Homo sapiens: one gene and its partners. The protein of the gene in region 7 interacts with the protein of the main gene of each other region in a biochemical or structural test. Each region holds a gene or a part of one and is shown on either strand. Other genes may lie near its edges.

Region 1 (3,500 bases), on a different chromosome or scaffold from region 7:
AACTAAAAATGACCTGTGTTCCACCATTTTTATCCACAACTTCCCTCACAGTTCTTAGACGACAGTCTCAACTGTGACCGTATTACAATTGTCTTTCTGGCGCCGAGGTTGCATTTCATCTTTGAAAGCCCTGGTCAGAACAACTTTTAAGGACTCCTTGAATCTCTTCTTCTTACTGCTTCCCACAAAGAAGTAAATGAAAGGGTTGGCGCTACTGTTGATTGTGGAGAAGAGCAGGGAAATGTGGTGTAGGTTCCCAAAGGTCGACCAATACTCATAGTACAGCAGGTAAAGGAGTCTCATGGGCATAGCGAAGATGAGGAATATAATGATGGTGACCATGATGACTATGTAAAGCTTGGAGGAATGGGAAGCCCACGTGTTCTTCCGGATCTTCACGACCAAGATGGTGCTGGACACCAGCATGAGGGGCGTGAAGACCAGGAAGCTCAGGATGGCTATAAAGATGATGACTGCTCGGCAGTCATTCCGAGAGTGACTCTCTTCTTCTCTGTCGATGCACATGACATACTCCATGGTGGTCACCAAGCAAGAAAGAGCCCACAGAAGGGCACAGACCAATGCCGACTGGTACTTGGGGCGATGGCATCGGTACCAGATGGGGTAAAGGACTGACAGGCACCTCTCCACACTAATGGCCGTCAGCAGATAGAGGCCCGTGTTGTAGCCAAACAGAAAAGTCACTGATAATGTGACAATTGTGTAGTAATGGCCAGAAGAAAGCTCATAATCTAAAGCATAGTCGATAGACAAGATGAAAATACAGAAGAGCAGTGAGATGTCTGCGATAGACAGGTGGGTGATGTAGACAGTGAAGGGATTTCTTCTCATCCGGAAGCACAGGAACCAGAGGAGAATCCCATTCTCAACAAACCCCACTGGGGAGATGCTCATAATGACCCAGTGCACGATGGGGATTTGCCGATGTGCATTCCCGACTGAGGCGTTCCTGCCAGTTGAGATGTTCGTGGGTTCCTCAACAACAAATGATGTCACGTTTGACCCATCCATGAGGAGGCCTCAGGTTGGAACTCTTCAGGTAATTTTCTGTAAATATGTCCAGAACAAAACAAACACAAAAAGCCATGAAAATTGTTGAATTGGAATAAAAGGGAGAAATTCAGCTATAAATCATAATCTTCATGTTATTAAAAAAAAGTTTAACAGACTCTACAGTTATCTTTGTCACAATGATAAGATTAGGCCTTTAGGACCTGATAAGAAAGGAACTTAGACCTGATAAGACTGAGAACTGATTGAATGACCCTTCTGGATCCCCAGTGATAACCATTCATTCTATATCATTGTGTGCTTGTGGCTTAGTGCCAAAAAGGAGATGGCCAGGCAAGAGTGGCCGAGTGCCCTGTGCGGGACCCATTTCCAGTTCTGGCCTGAGCTTTCCTAATGGCATTTTGAAAATCATTTCATCTTCTGTGCCTCCATTCATTTGCCTGAGGGACCAGGTGGACTGCATTAAGACTTGATGACAAAACGCATGTCTGGGCAATGCTGCCACTGTCATTTTTTAATACATGAAGTGCCATAAGCAGTAAGGAGAGGGAGTGCCTGGGACAATGGGTTTAATATTGTACCAATATTGCTTAAAGTGTGAACAATCAAAAGGCATTTATTTTACACGGCTTCAATATCTGCGACAAAGCTGGGCACCTGCTCAGACTACGTAAGCCAGGCAAGCCATTGATGTGTGGACTGGATGGAGAGCCCTAACAAGACGTATGTACGTCCCCACAGACCACAGGCCAGATGGTGCGGGAAACACCATCGCCAGATGCCAGACAAAGCACTCAAAAAAATTTTTTTTTCTAGTTTGTGTGCATGCATGTGTATGTGTATGTAGTAAAACATTGTTCTTTGCTTTCTGAACTTTGTCCATAAGAAGTTGATCAAAATAACTTTTTTTTTTTTGAGACAGAGACTTGCTCTGTCACCAGGCTGGAGTGCAGTGGTGAGATGTTAGCTCACTGCAACCTCCGCCTCCCAGGTTCAAGCGATTCTCCTGCCTCAGCTTCCTGAGTAGCTGGGACTACAGGCGCGTGCCACAATGCCTGGCTAATTTTTTGTATTTTAGTAGAGACGGGGTTTCACCATGTTGGTGAGGCTGGTCTTGAACTCCCGACCTCAGGTGATCCACCTGCCTCAGCCTCCCAAAGTGCTGGGATTACAGGTGTAAGCCACCGTGCCGGCCAATCAAAAGAATATTTTTAGTGAATAGATATCTGTCTTTTCCTCCTGAGCTCACCTGAAGCAGAATAATACATAAATGTGTTATTTCGTGGCACTTGAATGGTTCTGGTGATATTAGACATTTCTAGAATCAAGTCAGCAGAGCCCCAGCATGTGCAGGGCCCTGAGCTGTGATCTCAGTACAGCCGGGCCTGGACCCTGGACCAGCAGGTAGCCTTTGGGTTGGTGAAACAGGTGTTTCCTTCCAGCGATGTGATCCAGGCACCCAGGAGGACACTGCCTCCGTGGTCCCAATCACACCTATCCCATTGACACTTCCCTCAGCTGTTCTAATGGGATGCAGGAAATTACTTTCACTGGAGGAGAGCTTCCTTTTACTTCATAATTAGTAGACAGAGACCCGGAAAAGAACCCACACAGGATGAGAGCTCGCATGCCCTGTCATGCCTAACCAAAGCCCTGCTGTAGAGACCAGGCCTTGTTAGAAGTTTGCAAGTAAGACCACCATGTTCCCCAAATTCTCCCCCCACACATTTAGCCCATGCCAGGCACTGTGCTAGGCACTGGGACATGGCAGTAAATAAAACAAAGTGCCGGCCTGGTGGAGTCTGTATCCCAGTAGGGAGGCAGTCAAGCAAAATACAATAACAGCAACAACAATCAAACTGATGTCAGTGCGTGAACAGTTCTATGGAAAAAAGTAAAGCATCATTAAAGGAAAGGAGTGGCAGGGACCTGGGGGTTCCATCGTCCATAGTGTGATGGGAAACGTCTCACTCATGAGGTCACACTTGGGCAAAGACATGAAGGAAATAGGCGACCGAGGCCAGCAGGTTCTTGGGGGAAAAGTATTCCAGGCAAAAGAAACAGCAAGTTCGAAGTTCCAGAAGCAGGAGGCAGCCAGGAGTGAAGAACCGCAGAAAGGCCAGCAAGGCAGGAACGGCCCGGCAAGGAGAACAGTCAGGTGCTGAAGGCAGGGGTCTTTGGCGACCAGGTCCAAACGGGCTTTGTGGGCTGGTGCTTTTACCCCCAGTGAGATAATAAACCACAGGAGGTTCTGAGAGGAGGAATGTGGTTAACTTGGGGGACTGAGGCGTGAACAGCCTCGGTATGGCCCCTGTGTTCAGGTGACACTCTAGGGGCCATGGCAGGAAGGAGGAGGTCAGGTGGGAGGTGAAGGCACTGGCCTAGACACAGGGAGGATGTTAGCATAAATCAGGTTGTGGCAGAGGTAGTACTATCTGGTGGGAGGTCTTCGATTTGATTCACTGACG
Region 2 (3,500 bases), on a different chromosome or scaffold from region 7:
GAGACCATGGCCAAAATTCAGGGGGTGATGGTGAGAGGGAGCCTGCCTAGAGCAGGGGTCCTGGGAGCTCTGTTGGAGGAAGCTAGAGCCACATACCTGGAGTAGCTCTGATGTCTTTAAAGCCCACCTGCGGGAGGCAGCGGTGTACCATAGGTTTGGAAGCCAGACAGTTCTGGGCTCCATCTGCCTGAATAACCTCGGGCAGGTCACTGTACCTCTCTGATCCTTGTTTCCTTGTCTGAAAAAATGAAGATAATAGGCTGGGCGCAGTGGCTCATGCCTGTAATCCCAGCACTTTGGGAGGCAGAGGTGGGCGGATCACCTGAGGTCAGGAGTTCGAGACCAGCCTGACCAACATGGTGAAACCCCGTCTCTACTAAAAATACAAAAATTAGTCGGGGGTGGTGGCACGTGTTTGTAATCCCAGCTACTCGGGAAGCTGAGGCATGAGAATTGCTTGAGCCCAGGAGGTGGAGGTTGCAGTGAGTCAAGAGTGTGCCATTGCACTTCAGTCTGGGCAACAAGAGTGAAACTCATAAAACAAACAAACAAACGAACACACCCATCTGACAGGGGCTCTGTGCAAATGAGGTAAGAAGTAGTGCTCCAGGGTGGGTTAGAACACTGCGGACCCTGAAGCCCAACTCCCTGGGCTCCTCCAGCTCCTTCACAGTTCTGCCACTTATTCATTGAGTGATCCTGGGTATGCTATCCAACCTTTCTGGGCCTCAGTTTCCTCATCTGTAAAATGGAGTTAATAACAATATCTACACGAGAGGATTCATGTGGAGATTGAATGAATTAATACATGGAAAGCGCTTAGAACAAATAGTGCTTAGCACACAGTAAGAGCAGTGAAAAAATGTTAGCTATTATTACATAAAGTCACATAGCGTGGGGCCTGGCAGAAGGCTGAGACTCACTCGGTACACGTGTGGCCTCTTCCCCATGCTCCAGGCCTTTACTCTGCGCCCAGCAAATTCAGAGACCTTGGTAGGCAGGGGTGGGACAGATGAGGAAAGGGCAGGCAGCAAGTCTGGTCTGACGTCTTCCTCCCAGCTGCCACCTCCATGAAGGGACCACTCACATTCCTTCCATACCCCTCATCCCTCACCCACCGCCCAGGTACTCAAACAGCAGCCTGGCCTGGCCTGATCCCTCCTTCCTCTGAGAACTTCCACTCCTCACCATTCTTGCCACTCATTTTGTCCTGAGTGTTGCCTCTATGGCATGGCTAGGCCTGCAACCCTGTCTCCCTGGATGGAGGGGAGCAGGGGTTCTGCAAGCGCTAAGAGTGCAGTGTTTGCTCAGCCTCGTGGCCCCTCCTGCGCTGTGCACACAGCCAAGAAATGTTTGTAGATGATAACAACCCCATTCTTGCCCCAGATCTAGATAGAGAAGCAAGACTCTCATTCTCATTAAATTCAACATTACCATTTCCTCCCACACGAAGATAATGCTCACAACACAGTGGGAGGGAAGATAAATGGTTTTCCCTCCTGGGAAGGAGAGACACCCCCTGGGAAAAGTACCCAAGACCCCAAAGGAGAGACTTCCCTGAGCCTCTCCCTGGGCTCACTGTCTCACGTGCTGTCTCTCAGTGGCCTTAGCCCCTGCGGGGAGCATGCTGACATCCCACTGCAAGCAGACGACAGCATGTGGTAGACCATACACTGCCCTAGCTGTCAAGAATACCACGTTGGGCCGGGCGTGGTGGCTCAGCACTTTGGGACGCCAAGGAGGGAGGACCGCTTGAGCCCAGGAGTTTGAGACCAGTCTGGGCAACACAGAGAGACCCCGTCTCTGCTTAAAAGAATTGGGCGGATAGCAACTAGAAGGGCCAGCCTGGTGTTCCTTTTTTGCAATTATTGCTCACTGCAGCCTCAAACTCCTGAACTCACTTGAGTAAGCTATGTTCGCAACACTGCACTCCAGCCTGAGCAGCAGAGCAAGACCCCTGTCCCAAAAACAAACCAAAACCAAAAAAAAAAAAAAAAGAAAAAGAAAAAAAACACCACCAGGCCAGCCCCTCTAGTTGCTATCTCCAAGTGTAAGCCAGCTTGCAGGGTGGATGGGGGTGGGGGTAAAGGAAGGAGAGTTGCCACCATACCAGCTTCAGCCCACCACCGCCTACAGCAGAGCCGGAGCTGGGCCCATGCAAAGAGCGTGGGAAACGCAGCTCTTCAGCGTGGAGCAACTCAGCAGGGGCCCCTAGCACTCCTATATATCACTCTAGGTGGCAGGACTGCAAGGGGGCCAAGCCAAGATCAACAACAAAAGCAGAGCTATTCTCTAATCAACCAGGCTTGGGGGGGTATGTGGACAATTCCAGGTAAAAAGACCTGAGCATTAGTCAGGACCAACGACTAAAAAGCAAGCAAACAAAACCTTCGCGTACAGAGGACCCAGGACCAAAAGGAGACAGGGACGCATCTCACTCTATCTGCACTAGAAAGGCCACACCCTGAGCACAGCAGAAGGGATACTGGCATCCTGGAACCTGTCCAGAGGGGACGGTGCAGGAGGATATGGGAATCCTGGGTGGATGACATGGATGGGGGTGGACATGACAGCTGATGTCCAATGCAGTAGAGGGAAAGTTCACAGGATTGGGAGTCTGTCTTATGAGTAATGTAAGCTCTGGTGGGCTTCACTTCTCTGATCCCCCAGTTTCTTCTGCTGTAAAATGTGGATCGTGGTGACAGAAGCACGGGATCATTGGGAGGACTAAAGAAAGTCCCTAGGCACAGCGGGGCCCCCCCAACAAGCTGCAGCTCGGCCCAGGCACCACTCTCCCCTCTTCCTCCACCAGGGGGAGCCTGGGGACCAAGAGAGCCCAGCCTGTACCCGCTCTACCTAGCCTCCCCCAATGCTGCAGCCTCTGCTGCTAAACTCCCACCCTGCCTGCCCTCGCTTCCAGCGGCTTCTCACCCACTCCTTACAAACCCAGAACAGACCTAGCAGGGGAGTCGCTTGCAGCAGCAGCAGTGACAGCAATGGCTACTGCATCAACAGGCCCTCCTGATGCCAGGCCAGGAGGGAGAGTGGAAAGGAGGGAGACAGAGCCTTCTTCCCTGCCGCTGTCAACTCCCCACTCATCCCAGACTCATCTCCTCCTGCTCAAATCCTCTAGAGACCTAAGGCTCTCCTGGCCTCTCCTAGCTCAGTGCCAGGCCAGGTCCTGAGGCTAAGAGACTCCTGTGGGTTGGAGAGCTCTAGAGAAAAAAATACCAGGCCTTGGAGACAGGAAGACTTGGGTTCTAGTCCCAGCTCCATTAGCAACTAGTAGGGTAACCTTGAGTGAGGTCCCTTCATCTTGGAGCCTCAGTTTCCCCATCTCTAAAATGCAGTTGCCAACACTCACTGCAGAAGGCTTGTTGTGAAGTCAAAAAGAGGTAATAATGGGTGTGCAAATAGTTAATATATGGTCAGGAGAGAAACTTAAAGTACTACCTAAACCCCTTTATTAATCCAGTAGGAAATGCAAAGCAAGGAAACGC
Region 3 (3,500 bases), on a different chromosome or scaffold from region 7:
CTTCAAACTCCAGAAGTCTTTAAGTTGTGAATCCAGTATTTCTCCCCTTGGATATTTCCTCAGTTAAATAAATAATTAGTGAGCATTTGAAGTTAAAAGCAAACTACCCAGAGATTCATCACCTGAGAGAATTGGACCCTGAAAAATATGATATGTGGTTTACTGCAAACATTTCAGCCATGTTATTTGAGTTACATGGTAACAAGTTACATAATACTGTTTAAACTTTAATATTTAAAAAATATTCTTCAAGTCTTCATCTTTTTAAAAGCATTTTTATGCCAGGCACTGTAGCTCATGCTTGCAACTCCAACCCTATGGGAGGCCAAGGCAGGAGGATCACTTGAGTCAGGGAGTTCAAGACCAGCCTGGGCAGCACAGCAAGACCCCTTCTCTAAAAAAAATAATAAAAACAATTTAACCAGGCTTGTGGCCAGCCTGTAGTCCCACCTACTTGGGAGGCTGAGGTGGGAGGATCATTTGAGCCTGGAAGTTTGAGCCTGCAATGAGCTAGGATCACACCACTGCACTCCAGCCTGGGTGACAGGGCAAAACCTTGTCTCAAAAAATAAAAGCATTTTTATAGTATATTTTGTTTCCTGAGCTTTCAATTCACTATATATGCATGCGCGTGGGTGTGTGTGTGTGTGTCCACATGTGCACATGCGTCGTGAACAGTTAAAAAAAGAAAAAGCAGCATTTGGAAAACATTCTTTACCAAGGTTTACCTAGTAGTAAAATATTTATAAGTAATATTCATTAATGAGATTTAACAATAAAGTGTCCAACAATAAGATAAATGTTGTTACTATTTCGAAACAGCACACAAAATATAGTGGAAATGTATACATAATTCCTTAAAAGTGCATATTGTCATACTCTTAGTCAAATTTTGCGGTTTGAAACGGAACAAATCCATGGAGTGAGTTTGATAGAGCCGACTGAAAGTGCAGCTGCTATAATTTGGGCCCAGCATCAGCATTAAAAATGTGCCATTGTATGTATTCCTGTTATGATGAATAACAAAATAGAAGATAGTGTTCTATTGCAAATCACATTCATAAAAAGTGAGATTCTTTAAGCATGTTTGAAAAACTGCTTTCGAGATAGTGTACACCAAGGATTACAACATCTCAAAAAGGGATTAATCAAACACGATTAAAAGTTGCTATTACTGCTACAATTTACACATTATGTCAGTAATATATCTTAACCATGACTTTTATTATTTGATAGACAAGACAGTTATAATACCCTTAGTATATCTGGGTATATCAGTCTTGCTGTGTTTTTTTCCATTTGTTTCATCATCAAATTTTCAAAATGAGAATGCTTTTGTGACTTATCACTACCAACATGACTGACACTTCTTTCATATAATTTAAGAGTTATATTTGACTTTCATGTTTAAAAACAACAGTATATAGAACTCAATAGCTGGTGTAGTACCTACAAATATATTAGCTATGATAACAATCCTTAAGAGATTCACATTTTATGGAAAATAACATACAATTACAAATAAAATCTTCTTAGCAAATGGGGCTGTAAAGGGAATTTTACAGGTTTAAAAATGATCTCAGTGACTGCTGGCTTTACAAAGAAAATTGGATAAGACATTTCTGTGGGTTTTCTGTTGGCATATAGGATGACTAGTCAAAAGAGAAAAGACCAAAGCTTTGCCACAATCCAAATGACTGAGCCAACCATCAACAAGAAAATCCCAACCCCTCAGAACCAATCCTTTTGTATCCTATGACTTAGAGTCACAGAAAGTCAATATGGCTTCTCTGGTTTCAAGTCTAATGATGAAGTGGAACTGCCATGACTTCAAATTATTATTTCAAAATGCAGTATTTGCTTAAACACTTCTCACTGAATAATACTAAAACTCTCTAACAGAGAAGAGATACTGGTCTACAATAAGAAAAATAAGGTAGATGCCGGAAATGAAAAATATAACAAAGACCACACATCCAATAAGCAATCGATCAGGGATGCCAGAACTACTTAGACAATTTCCTTCATTCTTCCCAACTCCTACACAGATACTGGTACTGCCATTCATCCTCTGAAAAAAAATCATAAATATACTCTTTCTTTTTCCTTTTTCTTTTTTGTAAAGAAATAAAAATGTTCGTGCCAACATGTGCTGCAGTATGGATTCAATATGTGCTAACAATGTAGATGTAGGTCCGCACACTCACCTGGCACCAATGCATTTTCAAGAAGTCATTTAACATTCTGATTCTGCATTTATTTAAGGCATTAAATATGGGATATCAGTTTCTGCTCACAAAGGAGGATTACATCAAAGATGTAAGTAAGCCTACTTTGAAGATTGTAATGTGCTATAAACATATGTTTATAATGATAAAGAGGCTTACATAGCCTGGTGTTTGGCAGTAAATAAAATGTTAACAAATTCTCTTAAATATATGTAAATATATTTCAAAAGCTTGAAAACATTGAAAAGATTTAAATAATAAGCCATAACGCCAAAATAAATAAGTGTGAGCCCTAGAAGTTAAACATATTAGTTCTGGTAATATTCACCTATGAGGAATCAAATTATAATATTTAAGGGAAAATGCAAAAATCTTGTCTTAAAAGAATTACTATATTTTGGACCTGAAGTTTAAATTTGGCACGTCTCTCCATTAAATAAAAACATGTTGCCGGGCGCGGTGGCTCACGCCTGTAATCCCAGCACTTTGGGAGGCCGAGGCGGGTGGATCACGAGGTCAGGAGATCGAGACCACGGTGAAACCCCGTCTCTACTAAAAATACAAAAAATTAGCCGGGCGCGGTGGCGGGCGCCTGTAGTCCCAGCTACTCGGGAGGCTGAGGCAGGAGAATGGTGTGAACCCGGAAGGCGGAGCTTGCAGTGAGCGGAGATCGCGCCACAGCACTCCAGCCTGGGCGACAAAACGAGACTCCGTCTCAAAAAAAAAAAAAACATGTTGAGACATTCCTTAATTTTAAGAAAACCCGACAAGAAAGGTATTATATTACTACACTTTATGCTCCATACATTTTGCATGATGCCAGATAATGAATCCCTTTTATAATAAACCACAATAGTCCAGTTCTGGTTCTAGATTTGTTTTTTCTTTTCTTTTCTTTTTTTTGGGGGGTCTGTGGGTCTGAGCTCAGGATGAACTTATAATTCATATAGCACTAATCTGCATACAAATTTGACGCATACAAAAGCTTAGTGGTCAATATTCTCTTATTCATTCTAACCCTTCTTATTGGTGTTTTTCTTTTTTGGTTTATAGCAGGCACTCAATAAATATAAGTGACATAATCCATAACTTGAAAAGGTAAGAGCTGTGTCAATATATTGAGAGAAGAAAAAAGGCTGTAAAAATGACAGTAACATAAAATGGAAAGGATACGCCATTTAATAAAATAAAATGCATTTAATACACAGTATTAAATACAGAAGCTATGCTACAGCTAGAGAAATATAATTTGGTTTCTTATTAAGCTAAATT
Region 4 (2,695 bases), on a different chromosome or scaffold from region 7:
TCTCTAATTCCAGTCCTGCCCACCTGGCTTCTGGTCTGGCCTGGTACTGTCTCCAGGCAGTGGAAAGCCTGTGAGTTAGACATTAAAAAACAAACAAGCAAACAAAAAAAACTGGTCTGGGTTTCAACTTACCTGAAAATAAGGGTCAACATTCCCATTATAACTTTATTTAAATGCCAAATTGCTATGTGCAATGTTATCATAGATTATGGTAAGGTTAACTGTATCTTAGCTAGAAAGCCCTCACACCAGTGGTATGAAAGTACAGGAACTTGGCTGGGCGTCGTGGCTCATGCCTATAATTCCAGAACTTTGGGAGGCTGAGGCAGGAGGATTGATCACTTGAGCCTAGGAGACCAGCTTCAGCAACATGGTGAGACCTTGTCTCTCCAAAAAAAAAAAAAAAGGAAAGAACAGCAACTTTTTTTTTACTATACTCAGAAGTCCATTGTGTTCTAGTGACAGTCATCACTTAAGAAGCTTTATGCAGTTGACTCCACTTGGCACTGGCAACAAAGGAATTTTTAATGAGTTTGACAGGGAAAGGACACCCACACAGGATTTTTTGGTTTTCTTCTACACAGGTTTTTAAAAGCCTGGTTTGGTTTCAGCACATTGAGCTTACAGAAAAAATAAAACGCTAGCAAGTCATCAGACTCTTCAATGAAAATGTATTTCACATTAAACACAAGGTACATATCATGCAAATGAGGCATCACCATGGTCACAATGGTGCTGTGAGGTACAACAAATCACAAGAAAACAGACATTTAGCAAAATAAGGTTCCAGGAAAGATGAGAGGCATTTTCTGAAAGCCAGACCATGCTATGGTTTCTGTGTGCCTGTCATAAAGGGACTTGGCCAGTATTTGCCGAGATGGACAGCACCGCATTATGTGGAGGCATGTACTTTATTGAGTAGAGACACATACACAGACATATAATTTCTGTAACTAATACATTCTTAAATGTAGCTGGCTGTAAAAGCACATGAACAAGATTACTACTGAGACTTCTTTGTATCTCCTGGTTGCAAACCTCTCTCAGAATTATGAATCTTTCCAAACCCTTAATTATACAAGTCAAAACAAAAAGTTTCAAAGAAGAAAAGGTCATTTTAATTTGAAAGCCACATTTCGCCACAAGAAACAAAATTAAGAAAACACACCATTATATGGCATAAAATGTGTGGAGTATACATTCTAGTGTCATTTTTCCCATTCAGATTTTTTCTTGAAGTCCATTAAAGTGACATACTGGGTCCAATGTGGGCCCCCTATTGTTTCAGAATGCTATGGTTTTTGTTTGCGCCTGGTTTTATTAAAGCTGGGCAAACACAGGAGCAAACAAAGAAAACTCCCAAGATCCAATAGAAAAAAAATTAGCAAGAACATTGAAAACCAACCACCTGCACGCGAGACATAGGATTCATTCAGCTGGAAAGCCACTCCATGGTCTGGAGTGACTACAGCATGAAGATTTTAAGGTGTGACACGAAAGAGTCCTTGCTAGATTCAGTTGCCCATGTATACACGAATATGCATAAGAGAACAGAAATCATTACTGACTGTTTTGACTTCCTTCCTCAACCAAACTTACTACTTTAACCCCAGAAGAATAATGTGGGGCAATGCATTTCTGCAGGTGGCAAAGCTTAACAACAATTTTTTAAAGGCTTCTTGATACTGCTTTCCAACAGAGAAACTCTGGAGATGGGGAACCTCCTGAATTTCTTCTCTGTCTCAAAAAAGACAGGGAGATATACAGTGCAAGTTGAGTATATGTTGAACTAGAGTTTGGGTAAATGTCTAGAATATTTTACAGGAAAAGACATCTAAATGTTTATGTGCTCCAACTTTGGGAATAAGAATGGTTATAAAGCGAATTGCCGAGCCAGTCACTCAGGTTATTCAGAGGGTCACTATGATAATAGAGAAGTTCAGGAAGTGCTTTATCAGTAGCTGAAGCTCATAAACAGAACTGTAAAAGGAAACTTTGCTAAAGCCCAGCAAGGTGAAAGTTTCAAGGTTTCTACCAAGAGTGGCCAGTGTTTGACATACTACCTAGGAATACAGTTACATTCCGAGCTAATAATTTGGGATCCAGCGGTAAGGGTGACAGAAGCTTCTTCAAGCAGCTAGTAGCTCGGATTTGACTATCAGCAGCTTTACGGGTTCTCCAAACACCTGTGTCAATTCAGAAACAAAACCAGATGAGATCAAAGGGAAAACCAAGTATTGTGCAGTTTGTAGCACTATTCTCTCACTAAAACGATCACAACACACTGTGGCACTTTCTACCTTCTTGGCAATTATATTTTCCTCCTGGGCTTATACAGTATTTCTCAACAGAAGTGATAGAGTATTTTACATAGGACTATTCTTTTAGATGGGTCAAATTTTCCTTGTATGGAACTTTTCTAAAACCTGCAGATATTTAATGTCTCAAGCTTTGTCTTTCAAATGCCCCCAGCCACTCTGGCAACAAAAACCATCAACGTATGTCCAAACGTCTCCTGGTGGGGGTGGTACCACTTTTGGTAGAGAAGAATTTGAGAACTAGACCCAATCATAATTAAAAATATACAAGCAGTGTGAATAAAATAATTTGAGATTTTTCTTTTTGGACAGGGGTTTTGCATTTCTTTTAGAGATGTAAGAAATAAATTTGAGGACCTATGAATACTCTAATAAAT
Region 5 (4,095 bases), about 93 Mb from region 7:
CTGTCTACCCCATCTCCACCTGTATGTGACTAGAAGTGATCTCTGTCTCCTTTATTTTCTACCTTTTTTTCTCTCCTTCACCCAAACCCTAGCCTTGAGCTCATGCTGGTTCTTCCCTCTCCCCAACCCCACTTCCATCTCATCAGCCTTCCTCATCTTCTCAGTTTTCCCTTCATAAAGTTCCCCAACCTTCCAACCTTCCTGTCCCCACGCCTGCCACGTCTCCCTCCACACCTGGAACATCACCGTCATCCCCAGGCTCCTCTGGCCTCTGTACCTGGTGATTTGGTTTGGCTGTGTCCCCACCCAAATCTCACCTTGCATTGTAATAATCCCCATGTGTCAAGAGCAGGGCCAGGTGGAGATAATTGAATCACGGGGGCAGTTTCCCCCATACGGTTCTCGTGGTAGTGAATAAGTCTCACAAGATCTGATGGTTTTATAAGTGGAAGTTCCCCTGCTCAAGCTCTCTCCTGCCAGCCACCATGAAAGATGTGACTCTGCTCTTCATTCGCCTTCAGCCATGATTGTGAGGCCTCTGCAGCCATGTGGTGCGAGTCAATTAAACCTATTTCCTTTATAAGTTACCCAGTCTTGGGTATGTCTTTATTAGCAGCATGAGAACAGACTAATACACCTGGGTTCCTTCCTGGGGGCGGGGGTGCCTGTTCTGCTCCCCAGATTTTCCAAACCCCACTCCCCTGAAAAGTGCAGCTTGGTGCTGTCCACTCCACGCAGCCCTCCCAGCCACTCCCTCAGCAAAAATTCACTGTGCACTTACAGGTCGCCCCACTCCCAATGTAGGCCAATGGTGGGGATTCAGAGATGAAAAAAGGCAGGAACTCAGAGGCTCTTGGAACTGCTAGGGAGAGAGACACAGAAACACATCATGTGATGCAGTGCTTTTGTCTTCACAGCCCGGGGTTACTTTGGGGCCAGGTATACCCCAGGGCACTACCCCTTATCTGTCCCATTCCCACTGCCCCCTCCACTCTCCAGTGATGAGGACCTTGTCCTCCTTTCCCTGGGCACCAGTCCAGGTCCCTCCCTGAAGCAGCCCTTAGTGCCAGCACTGGACAAGGTTACATCTTCGGATACACAACTTCAGATCCGCACGGATATAGGCCAGACTGAAAGGTCATAGATATTTGAATATAAGAGGGGATTGGTAGATCCTTTTGTACAGAAGCAGAGATGGAGAGCTGGAGAGAGGGAATGACTGGTGGAGGATTCCACAGCCCATCAGTGCTGGCACAGGGACCAGAATACTGCATCACTGCCAGGACAGTCTCACCAGCCACCAATGGCCGGCAGTTCAATTCAGTGATTCCCAAATCTGGAATTCTGTGGATCCAGAGAATGCTTTCTTATAGGCATGTGCATGTGTGAGAAAGAGAGAGAGAATGGGGGAATATACGACTGCCAACTTTTTATTTTGCCAAGAGCATTAAAAACAAAGCAACTTATCTACTGTCACTGGTTTGGTTTTTATTCAAATTTTTGTTGTTGTTCTTTTTTGAGACAGGGTCTTGTGTCACCCAGGCTGGAGTGCAGTGGTGCATTCATGCCTCCTGGGCACAAGCGATCCTCCTGCCTCAGCCTCCCGAGTAGCTGGGACTACAGGTGTATGCCATTACACCTGGCTAATTTTTTTTTTGAGATGGGGTCTTGCTATGTTGCCCAGGCAACCCCTGGGCTCAAGTGATCCTCCCACCTTTACCTCCCAAAGTGCTGAAATTACAGGCATGAGGCCCCACGTCTGGCCAAATTATTATTTTTTAAAGGACCCATGGGCCGGGTGCGGTGGCTCACGCCTGTAATCCCAGCACTTTGGGAGGCCGAGGCAGGTGGATCACGAGATCAGGAGATCGAGACCATCCTAGCTAACACGGTGAAACCCCGTCTCTACTAAAAATACAAAAAAAAAAAAAAAAAAAAAAATTAGCCAGGCGTGGTGGGGGCGCCTGTAGTCCCAGCTACTCAGGAGGCTGAGGCAGGAGAATGGCGTGAACCCGGGAGGCGGAGCTTGCAGTGAGGCGAGATCGTGCCACTGCACTCCAGCCTGGGCGACACAGCCACAGCGAGACTCCGTCTCAAAAAACAGAAAGGACCCATAACACCAGGAGGTAAGAAAAGCTGTGTACCCCGTGGTGGTGCCTGGACCAGCGTCTGAGGACCACTGGCTTGGCAGGAGGTTCCTGGACCCTAGGCCCCCTTCAGCGCCTGAGCTGCAGCCCCGCACCTCCCAGGCCCTGGCACTTAACAGGAAAGTCGGCAGCTGCTCTGGGGATGAAGGAAGTGGGCGACCTGAAGGGCATCCTGGTTTGGAATGGGAAAGAGACCTTCCCTTCCCACTGTTTCCTCCGGTCATTTGTGGCAACTTGGACTGCACATTGACCCAGGGTAGGGTCAGAGGTTCCTTCCCGTTGACAACCGTCCTCGGCCCTTTCCCCTGAATGCCAGGACTCCGCCCTTCTGTGGCCCCAAAGCCATAGGGATATTTTCAAGACCCCAAGCTGGGCCCTAACCAGGCCATCCGCCCCCAGCCCCTGCCCCGGGCGTCCCACAGCCAGTTAGGCGATGTTCGGCCTTGGGTGGGTAGGGGGACTTCCCCACATCCTCTCCCAACCTGTGGGGCCACCTTGCTCTCCCCCATACTGGTCTCCCCTCTACCCTTCCCTCCACCTGCGGCACCGTCGTAGGCGGTTTCGCGTCCCAGAGCTGGGCTGCCCTCCAGGCGGGTCACGGTGGGACCCTCGCCCTCCACTCCAGGCTCCACCGCGCTCCTGGAGCTTCCGTTGGCCCCAGAGGCCCCGGCGGGGGGTTGCCCCGACCCGGGGGAGGAGCCCACTGAGCCTGGGCCTCTGAGCGGAGCTCCAGCTCCAGCTCTGCGGAGGAGACGCGGGCTCACCTCCCTACCTGCCGCCCCGGCCACCGCAAACCTGGCGGGTGGAGGGTGGGGAAACCAGGCCCTGGCGTCTGCCCACAGTACCGGCTTCGCTCACGGGTGTGTGGGGGCGGAGGAACAGAGAGCGGGAGGGATCTGAATTCAAATCCTAGCTCTGCCATTACCAGCGTGGGGACTTTGAATAAATTTCCTGTGTCTCCTTCCTGGGTCCTGGGCTTCTAATCTGTAAAATGGGAATAATAATAGTATTAATAATATGGTGTTAATAGTATTAACACTATTATATTAATGATATACTATTAACACTATTATATTAGTAATATAGTGTTGAGTGTTAACACTTATATTAATAATATAGCGTTAATAGCATTAACACTATTGTATTAATAATATAGGGTTACTATTAACACTGCTATATTAATAATACATGATTAACACTATTAATCATATAATAGTGTTAACACTATAATATTAACAATATAATATAGTGTTAACACTATTATAGTGTTAACACATATTATATTAATAACACTATTATATTAATAATAATTGTTAATAATATAGTGTTAACAGTATTATAATTATATTAATAATTAATAACACTCGTATATTAATATTATAATTAATAATAATAAAGTGTTAATAGTATTAACACTATTATATTAATGATAATAGTGTTAACACTATTAATAATGTAATAGTATCTACACTATAATAATAATATAGTGTTTCATAATATAGTGTTAGGCCGGGCGCGGTGGCTCACGCCTGTAATCCCAGTCCTTTGGGAGGCCAAGGCAGGCGGATCACGAGGTCAGAAGATCGAGACCATCCTGTCTAACACGGTGAAACCCCGTCTCTACTAAAAAATACAAAAAATTAGCCGGGCGTGGTGGGGGCGCCTGTAGTCCCAGTTACTCGGGAGACTGAGGCAGGAGAATGGTGTGAACCTGGGAGGCGGAGCTTGCAGTGAGCAGAGATGGCACCACTGCACTCCAGCCTGGGCGACAGAGCAAGACTCTGTCTCAAATAATAATAATAATATAGTGTTAACACTATTATATTAATAATATAGTGCTAACACCATTATATTAATAATATAGTGTTAATAGTATTAACATTATTATATTAATAATATAGTGTTAACACATATTAGTAATGTAGTGTTAACACTATCATATTAAAAA
Region 6 (3,500 bases), on a different chromosome or scaffold from region 7:
CCTGTTCTCAGTTCCTGGGCTCAGCCCTCCTCCAAGGCCTGCCAGTGAGTAGCAGTTTGGAAGGCAGGCCAAGGGAGATCCCCAAAGACAGTTATCAGTCTTAACTTCTGCTGTCTCCCGTCAAATACTTATACAGGCCCCCATGGGTAATAGGCAAGCATGATGGCTGATAGAGAAGTCAGTGCATGAGTTACTATCACATGTCCCCCCAACCCCTCCTGCCACCTCCCAGGGCTCTGGATAATTGAATCTTCCTGAGTCCCACAGCTGGAGACTCAACCAGGATATAGCTGTAAATGCCCAAGTAGAATCTGACAGAATAAGACAGAGACACTGAAAATAAAGCCCTAGAAAGGAAGAAATTGGAAGCAAAGAAAAGGAGAGGTGAAAAGATAAAAAGCCTCCTTCAAGGTTAGGTTCAGGTTCTGTTTTCCATTTAACCTCATGTGCCATAAAGCTGCCCAGGCACACCAGAGCCACATCCTGAACCCGACCCTCCCTGACAGTGCTGCTCTGCCAGTAGCAAGCCCCAGATGGAGGAAGCTGGGCCCATTTCTGGCCACTTCCACCCATTTGGAGCTTTGCCAGAGGAGTCGTCTATGCCAATAATATTTCTGCAACAGCATATTATATTATTTGAAGATTAGTAGATCTTTTTGGGGGGGTGGGGCAGGGGACAGTTTCTATAGATGAAGAACCAGTGTTGGTTGTACAGCTGTTGGGGGTCATCTATCCCATGTGAAGCTATTCTTTTTCCAAATCTTGTTGTTTCTGCATTTGTGTCCTCCACCACTCCCTTCTTGGCTGACATAGATATGCCTGCCAGATTGTCATCAAGGGTCATATTTCAATAAAAGGTGCTAAGGACAAAAAAAAATCTCATGTGTTTTAACTCAGGTGATGGAAGTCTAAAGATTCTGCTGAAAAGTACTGGAAAGGAATTTGGTCACCTATCCATAGTCCTTCACAGATAAACATATGACCAGACCCTTACCCACATCCCTAAACCCTTACCCTGGCCTCTGAGGGATGGTATTGATGCTATACCATTCATCATCCCCAGTTAAATAGCAGGATCTGCCATAGCCTTTTTAGGGGAACAGCTTTTAGACATCTATTTCAAGACCATCCTGAGTAGGGGGTACAGAGTTTAAGCCATTGGTTATTTCTGTTGTTATCACAGTATTGAAGCATGGTATTTTTCTACTCAGAAGGATCTCAGGATCACAGCCCTGCCCTTTAGCTCACTGATATATTTCTTCCTCTCTGGTTACTCAGTGGCAACATCACATCCAGTCTAACCCCATGTTTAGAATGCAGAAAAAGTCAACAATAGGTGTAATCTCAGGTATAGACCTAAGCAGTATACAGAGTCTAGTTCTGGAGTCTAGCCTGATCGAAGGTAAGCCATTCTTTCTAGACTTCTTCCAATCTTGAATTCTGTCTAGTATTTTCATCTTACTTCTAGCTGATAGTCCAATCTCACACCTTCATGCTCAGCTCCCTGGAAAGCAAGGGCCTTGGTGATCTGCTCTCCAAGGCAACCTCAAAGATTAGACTCAAATGTATTCCAGGAAGCAACTCTGACATTGAAAAGCTTTCTTTTTTCGTGATCCATATTCTGTTCACATTCCAACTATCCTCCTTCTACTCAAGATATCCATTGTGGTAGAGTAGAAAGAGTCCAGCTTTGGCATTAGAATGAACTGTGTTCAAATCCTGGTTCTGCCACTTATTCAATGAACCTGGGCTACTAGCTCAACTTCTGAGGTCATTTTCTTATCTGTAAAATGGGAACAGTATTATCTTGCTTGCAGTTATTGTAACTTGAAAATAATAAATAAAAGCCACTAACAATCCAAGAAGTTATTAGGCAGAATCCCAGGCCCACCCCAAACCCAGTGATAGCAGTCTGAATTTTAACTAGATTTCCAGGAGATTCATGAACATATTACAGCATGGGAAGTACTGACTTGTTGAAAACATATTCAGTACATGGTAACCATTATTATAGTCCTGATCTACTCAATTCATTTTTTCCTTATCCCAGGCATATTCTTGCTCTTCTCGTGTTGCTCACAACTACCTGCCTGGATGAATTTAGGAAAGTTGCAGGATACAAGGTTAAAACACAAGATCAAATGAACAATCCGAAAATGTTATTAAGAAAACAGTTCCGGCCGGGCATGGTGGCTCACGCCTGAAATCCCAGCACTTTGGGAGGCCGAGGCAGGTGGATCACGAGGTCAGGAGATCAAGACCATCCTGGCTAACACGGTGAAACCCTATCTCTACTAAAAATACAAAAAATTAGCCAGGTGTGGTGGCACGCACCAGTAGTCCCAGCTACTCGGGAGGCTGAGGCAGGAGAATTGCTTGAACCTGGAAGGCAGAGATTGCAGTGAGCTGAGACCACACCACTGCACTCCATCCTGGGCAACAGAGTGAGACTTTGTCTCAAAAAGAAAGAAAGAAAGAAAGAAAGAAAGAAAGAAAGAAAAGAAAGAAAGAAAGAAAGAAAGAAAACAGTTCCATTTACAATAGCATCAAAAAGAAAAAAGTACTTAGGAATAATTTAACAAAAGAAGTGCGAAACTTTTACACTGAAAACTATAAAACATTGTTGAAAGAGATTAGAGAAGATCAAAATAAATGGAAAGACACTCCATGTTCATGGATTGGAAGACTTAGTATTGTTAAGATGAAATGTGCCCCAAATTGATCTACAGATTCAATCCAGTGCTTATCAGAATTCCAGTGGCTTCCTTGTGTAAGTTTACAAGCTGATTCTAAAATTCATATGGAATTACAAGGGACCTGGAACAGTCAAAACAATCTTTAAAAAGAACAGTTGGAGGGCTCATACATCCCAACTTCAAAACTTACTGCAAAACTACAGTAATCAAGACAGTGTGGTACAGACACAAGGGTAGGTGTATAAATAAATGGAATTAAATTGAGAGTCCAGAAATAAATCCTCATGTATATGGTTAGTTAATTTCAACAAGGGTCCCAAGAGAAATTGAGGAGAGAATAGTTTTTTAACAAATGATGCTGAGACAACTGGGTATCTACATGGGAAAAAATGAAGTTTTCCTTAAATCACATGCAAGAATCAACTCAAAATGGATTATAGAATGTAAGAGTCAAAATTATAAAATTCTTAGAAGAAAACATTGTAATAAGTCTTCCTAATGTTAAGACGATTTGCACAAGTGATACAAGAAATAGAAATAAATTGGAGTAAATCAAAATTAAAAACTTTTGTGCTAAAAATATACCATATAAAAAAGTGAAAAGACAAGCAACATAATATTAGGAGAAAATATTTGCATATCAGATACTTCAAAATATGAAAAGGACTCTTACAACTCAATGATAAAAATAACCAATTAAAAATGGGTTAACAGATTGTAATAGACATTTCTTCAAAGAAAATATGTGTTTTAGTATGCTTGGGTTGCTATAACATACTACCATAGACTGATTGTCTTAAATAA
Region 7 (3,500 bases):
GCAGGGGAATGAAGTCTTAGAACATGGCTGCAGGGCAGGGACACTGAGGATGGATTTGGGTTTGGCCACATGTGTGACCTGTGTCCCTGTGTCCACCTTTGGTAACCAATGGAAGAACCACGCTGTGGAGCAATACTTGAAGATCGGTCCAAGGCTGGCAGGAGTGAGGTCTCCAGGGGACCCAGGAGGTCCTTATTTGTGCCCTTGTCTCACTGAGGTATTTTTTTTTTTTTTTTTTTAGATAGGGTCTCACTCTGTACCCCAGGCTGGAGTGCAGTGGTGCCATCTTGGCTCACTGCAACCTCCACCTGTGGGAATCAAGTGATTCTCCCTCTTCAGCCTCCCGAGTAGCTGGGACCACAGGCATGCACCACCAGGTCTGGCTAACTTTTTGATTTTTTTGTAGAGACAAGATCTCACTATGTTGCCCAGACTTGTCTTGAACTCTTAGGCTCAAGCAGTCCTCCCGCCTCAGCCTCCCAAAGTGCTGGGATTACAGGCGTGAACCACCAAGCCTGGCCTCAATGGGCATCTTTATTAGCAACTTGGAAAGGGTCCCTGGAGATGTGGGCTGAGAAAGCAGGAGACAGAATTGGGACCCAGGAGATGGCAGTGGGGAAAAATCACAAGCATGCCTCTGCCCAGTGTGACTACATGTGAGAGTGAGCTATTGATCCCAAGAAGATGGAGTTGAGGATGATGGTGATCATGAGCACTGGGACGGGGCAGCCCTGGGAGCTGGAAGGAGCCCCTGCCATATTAAAAGGAGTATGATGTCCCAGTCAAAGGAGCTGAGAACCCTGTTCTCTCCTCTGAGCTGGTCAAGCCCCATTGGGGGTTCCATCTGGGAATGTCTCTTTGACAGGGACATGGACACTGGAGTGGGGGTTGGAAACCATGTTCTAAGAGAATGATCTGAAAAAAAAAAAAAGGGGTGGGGTGAACCTTGTTCATCTTGCAGATTGGTTGGTCTGTGGATAAGATTGCTCTGCCCGATTTTAAGGGCCAGAAAGAAAACAGGGCATGGGAATCCTGGGGAGACAAGATTTCAGAGCAAGACAAAGGATGGTTAAAATCGTCCAGTGAGGAAAGGAAGACCTTGACAGGTAGTGAGTTCCCCACCACTGAAGGTGTTCAAGCATACACTGCCAGTGTTGTGAGGGAGGAACTTCAAGCATCAAAGTGAAAGGGTGAAGGCTGGTGTGCAGGAGTTTGAACCAGCTGCTCTTTTAAAGGTTTAAGAGAACTTGTCTGGCCTCAAAAGTGATAGGTTTCAAGGATGGGTAGGGTGGCATTTCCAGGTGTCCCCAGTGTGTGTCTTTGGCTGAGGGACACAGATTGGCTTCAATGCCTGCAGTGGCCCCCAAGCGTGGGGACGTTCTTGGGCTGGGCCTCTACTCATCCTCTGCTTGGGGTAGGGAGGATGATGTTGGAAGATGCCTGGCCGATGGGTTTTCCTTCAGTGCTGCTGCCCAAGCCATCCTCCCCCAGTACAGAGCGCTGCTGGGTCCCAGGTCACCTACCTGACCCCAGATGGTGCCTTCTGAGTTCTCCACCTGTTCCCACCGCAAGCGCTTGACGCTCATGTGGCTGGTCTCACTGCGCCGGTGGCCCAGGCCCCGGGACAGCATGGGGGGTGCACAGGGCACGGGTGGGGGCAGGGGCGGTGGGGGTGGTGGAGGGACTGGGTGGCTGAGTTGGGTGAGGGGCTTGGCCAGCGCCTGAGCAGGGCCCCGGGAACCATCAGAGCTGCGGGAGCTGGGCTTAGCGTCATGGAAAGGCAGGGGTGGCGGTGGTGGGGGGCTGAGCGGGGGTGGGGGGATGTGGTCAGAGATGGAGGAGTAGGTCAGGGAGCTGCCTTCTTCACTGCTGCTGATGCAGTCGCTGGCGCTGCTCCGCTCATTGGTTACGAAGCTGCCCTGGTCATCATGGAAGCTCATCTGGTGGTGGGGAGAGAGGCAAGGGGAGGGTGAGGCTGGGCCCAGAGAGACTAGAGCAGGTGCAAAGTGAAGGATCATGGGATAGCCTGGGACAAGGACAGGGCCATCTCACGGGTTAGCCTCAGGCTGTGAGGGACACCTGGGCTAAGGATAGGACTGTCTCACAGGTTAACCTCAGGCTGTGAGGGGGATAGCCTGGGCTAAGGATAGGACCCTCTCATGGGTAAGCCTCAGGCTGTGAGGGGGATAGCCTGGAATAAGGACAGGACCCTGTCACGGGTTAGCCTCAGGCTGTGAGTGGGATAGCCTGAGCTAAGGAATGGGCTAACCTGCGACAGGGAATATGGGCTAGCCTCAGTCAAGGAGCATGATAACCTTGAACAGGAGATAGGGTAACCTGGGGCAAGGGGTGGGATAGCTTGAGCTAGGGAGTGGGATAGCCTGGGGAAGATCCCAAGGGCAGCAGGCCCCTTGCGGGAGCCCAGGAACACTGTTGCCTTGCAGACCGCCACACCTCGCCTCACCCGCCTCCCTCCACACCTGCTTGCGTGCCCACCTCCTCGTAGTCGTTCTCCGGGGTCAGGAAATCATCCACGATGGTGACCCGGGGGCCCAGCTGCTCGCTCAGCACGTCCAGGAAGCGGTCAGTATCGCGGCTTCGCACAGGGTGGGAGAAGGTGAAGAGCTTCCTGCGGCTGGGCGGGCGGGTGGGGTCCGGGCTTGGGGGGCTGTCGGGGCAGATGGGCCCGGGGCCTGGCTGTGGGGAGGGTGCCCTGCTGCTGTCCAGGCTGGCGTAGGGGTGGGACTCAGAGCTGCTGGGGGAGGCCAGACCCCCCGAACACAGCGGGTGGTAGCAGGGGGAGGGCAAGAGTCGCTCGCTGGGCCATGAGACGCCGGACAGGGTCCTGGGCCCTGGAGGAGGGATGGAGTATGAGGATTCCTCTTCAGCCAGCACCGAGGTTCCAGGTGCAAGCTGGAGAGAGGGTCCTAGGACAGACTGGCTCTGTGTCCCAGGCCACTCTCCTTTCCCTCTCTGGGCACAGTGCAGGAAGACCTTGAGCGGCCCTGCCTTCCAAGCATGACTAAAGGCCAGATCTGGTGAGCAGGAGCACTGCTCGGCCTCAGGACAGGCTGGACGCCAGCTCACCTTGGAATGGTCACCAGGGGTCCCAGCTGGGAGCCACTGAACACCATTAACTCAAAGGGTGGAGGGGTTTCTCTAGGGCCCAGAGCCACAGTCATGGAGCGTCTCGCGCACCCAGCAAGCCCTGAGATCACAGGAGGGCCTCCCAGGGCTCCTGCCTTCTGAGCTGCAGAGCAACTGTCTTCCCAGCTGTGCCAACGCTGGTACAACGCGTTGCACTTGATCATTTATCCAATAACCACTTGCTAACTCGGGGACTTCCTCAGAATCAGGCATCTGCCTTCTTTCTTTTTCTTTTTTAAGACAGGGTCTTACTCTGTTGCTTATAGGCTAGAGTGCAGTGGTTCGAAATAGCTCACTGCAGCCTTGAACTCCTGGGCTCAAGTGATCCTCCCGCCTCAGCCTCTTGAGGAGTT

What was found.
Region 1: the proteins of GRID2IP (region 7) and MAS1 interact in a test that uses a peptide from one of them, tested with the Homo sapiens proteins (one large-scale study listed by IntAct).
Region 2: the proteins of GRID2IP (region 7) and IQSEC2 interact in a test that uses a peptide from one of them, tested with the Homo sapiens proteins (one large-scale study listed by IntAct).
Region 3: the proteins of GRID2IP (region 7) and CTNND2 interact in a test that uses a peptide from one of them, tested with the Homo sapiens proteins (one large-scale study listed by IntAct).
Region 4: the proteins of GRID2IP (region 7) and MAP7D2 interact in a test that uses a peptide from one of them, tested with the Homo sapiens proteins (one large-scale study listed by IntAct).
Region 5: the proteins of GRID2IP (region 7) and TMEM225B interact in a test that uses a peptide from one of them, tested with the Homo sapiens proteins (one large-scale study listed by IntAct).
Region 6: the proteins of GRID2IP (region 7) and SHROOM4 interact in a test that uses a peptide from one of them, tested with the Homo sapiens proteins (one large-scale study listed by IntAct).

What each region holds. Positions count from the first base shown.
Region 1 is NC_000006.12:159,904,488-159,907,987, reverse strand, and holds part of MAS1 (proto-oncogene Mas), read right to left. Parts: intron 1,069-3,500; 5' UTR 1,033-1,068; coding exon 55-1,032; 3' UTR 1-54. UniProt on the Homo sapiens protein: Receptor for angiotensin 1-7. Acts specifically as a functional antagonist of AGTR1 (angiotensin-2 type 1 receptor), although it up-regulates AGTR1 receptor levels.
Region 2 is NC_000023.11:53,314,851-53,318,350, forward strand, and holds part of IQSEC2 (IQ motif and SEC7 domain-containing protein 2), read right to left. Parts: intron 1-3,500. UniProt on the Homo sapiens protein: Is a guanine nucleotide exchange factor for the ARF GTP-binding proteins.
Region 3 is NC_000005.10:11,341,447-11,344,946, forward strand, and holds part of CTNND2 (catenin delta-2), read right to left. Parts: intron 1-3,500. UniProt on the Homo sapiens protein: Has a critical role in neuronal development, particularly in the formation and/or maintenance of dendritic spines and synapses. Involved in the regulation of Wnt signaling.
Region 4 is NC_000023.11:20,006,213-20,008,907, forward strand, and holds the end of MAP7D2 (MAP7 domain-containing protein 2), read right to left. Parts: intron 2,187-2,695; 3' UTR 501-2,186; downstream 1-500. UniProt on the Homo sapiens protein: Microtubule-stabilizing protein that plays a role in the control of cell motility and neurite outgrowth via direct binding to the microtubule. Acts as a critical cofactor for kinesin transport.
Region 5 is NC_000007.14:99,596,972-99,601,066, reverse strand, and holds the start of TMEM225B (transmembrane protein 225B), read right to left. Parts: upstream 2,801-4,095; 5' UTR 2,686-2,800; intron 2,464-2,685; exon of another isoform or gene 2,319-2,463; coding exon of another isoform or gene 2,265-2,318; intron 863-2,264; coding exon of another isoform or gene 782-862; intron 1-781.
Region 6 is NC_000023.11:50,590,695-50,594,194, reverse strand, and holds part of SHROOM4 (protein Shroom4), read left to right. Parts: 3' UTR 1-3,500. UniProt on the Homo sapiens protein: Probable regulator of cytoskeletal architecture that plays an important role in development. May regulate cellular and cytoskeletal architecture by modulating the spatial distribution of myosin II.
Region 7 is NC_000007.14:6,506,462-6,509,961, forward strand, and holds part of GRID2IP (delphilin), read right to left. Parts: intron 2,853-3,500; coding exon 2,497-2,852; exon of another isoform or gene 2,445-2,496; intron 1,941-2,444; coding exon 1,524-1,940; intron 1-1,523.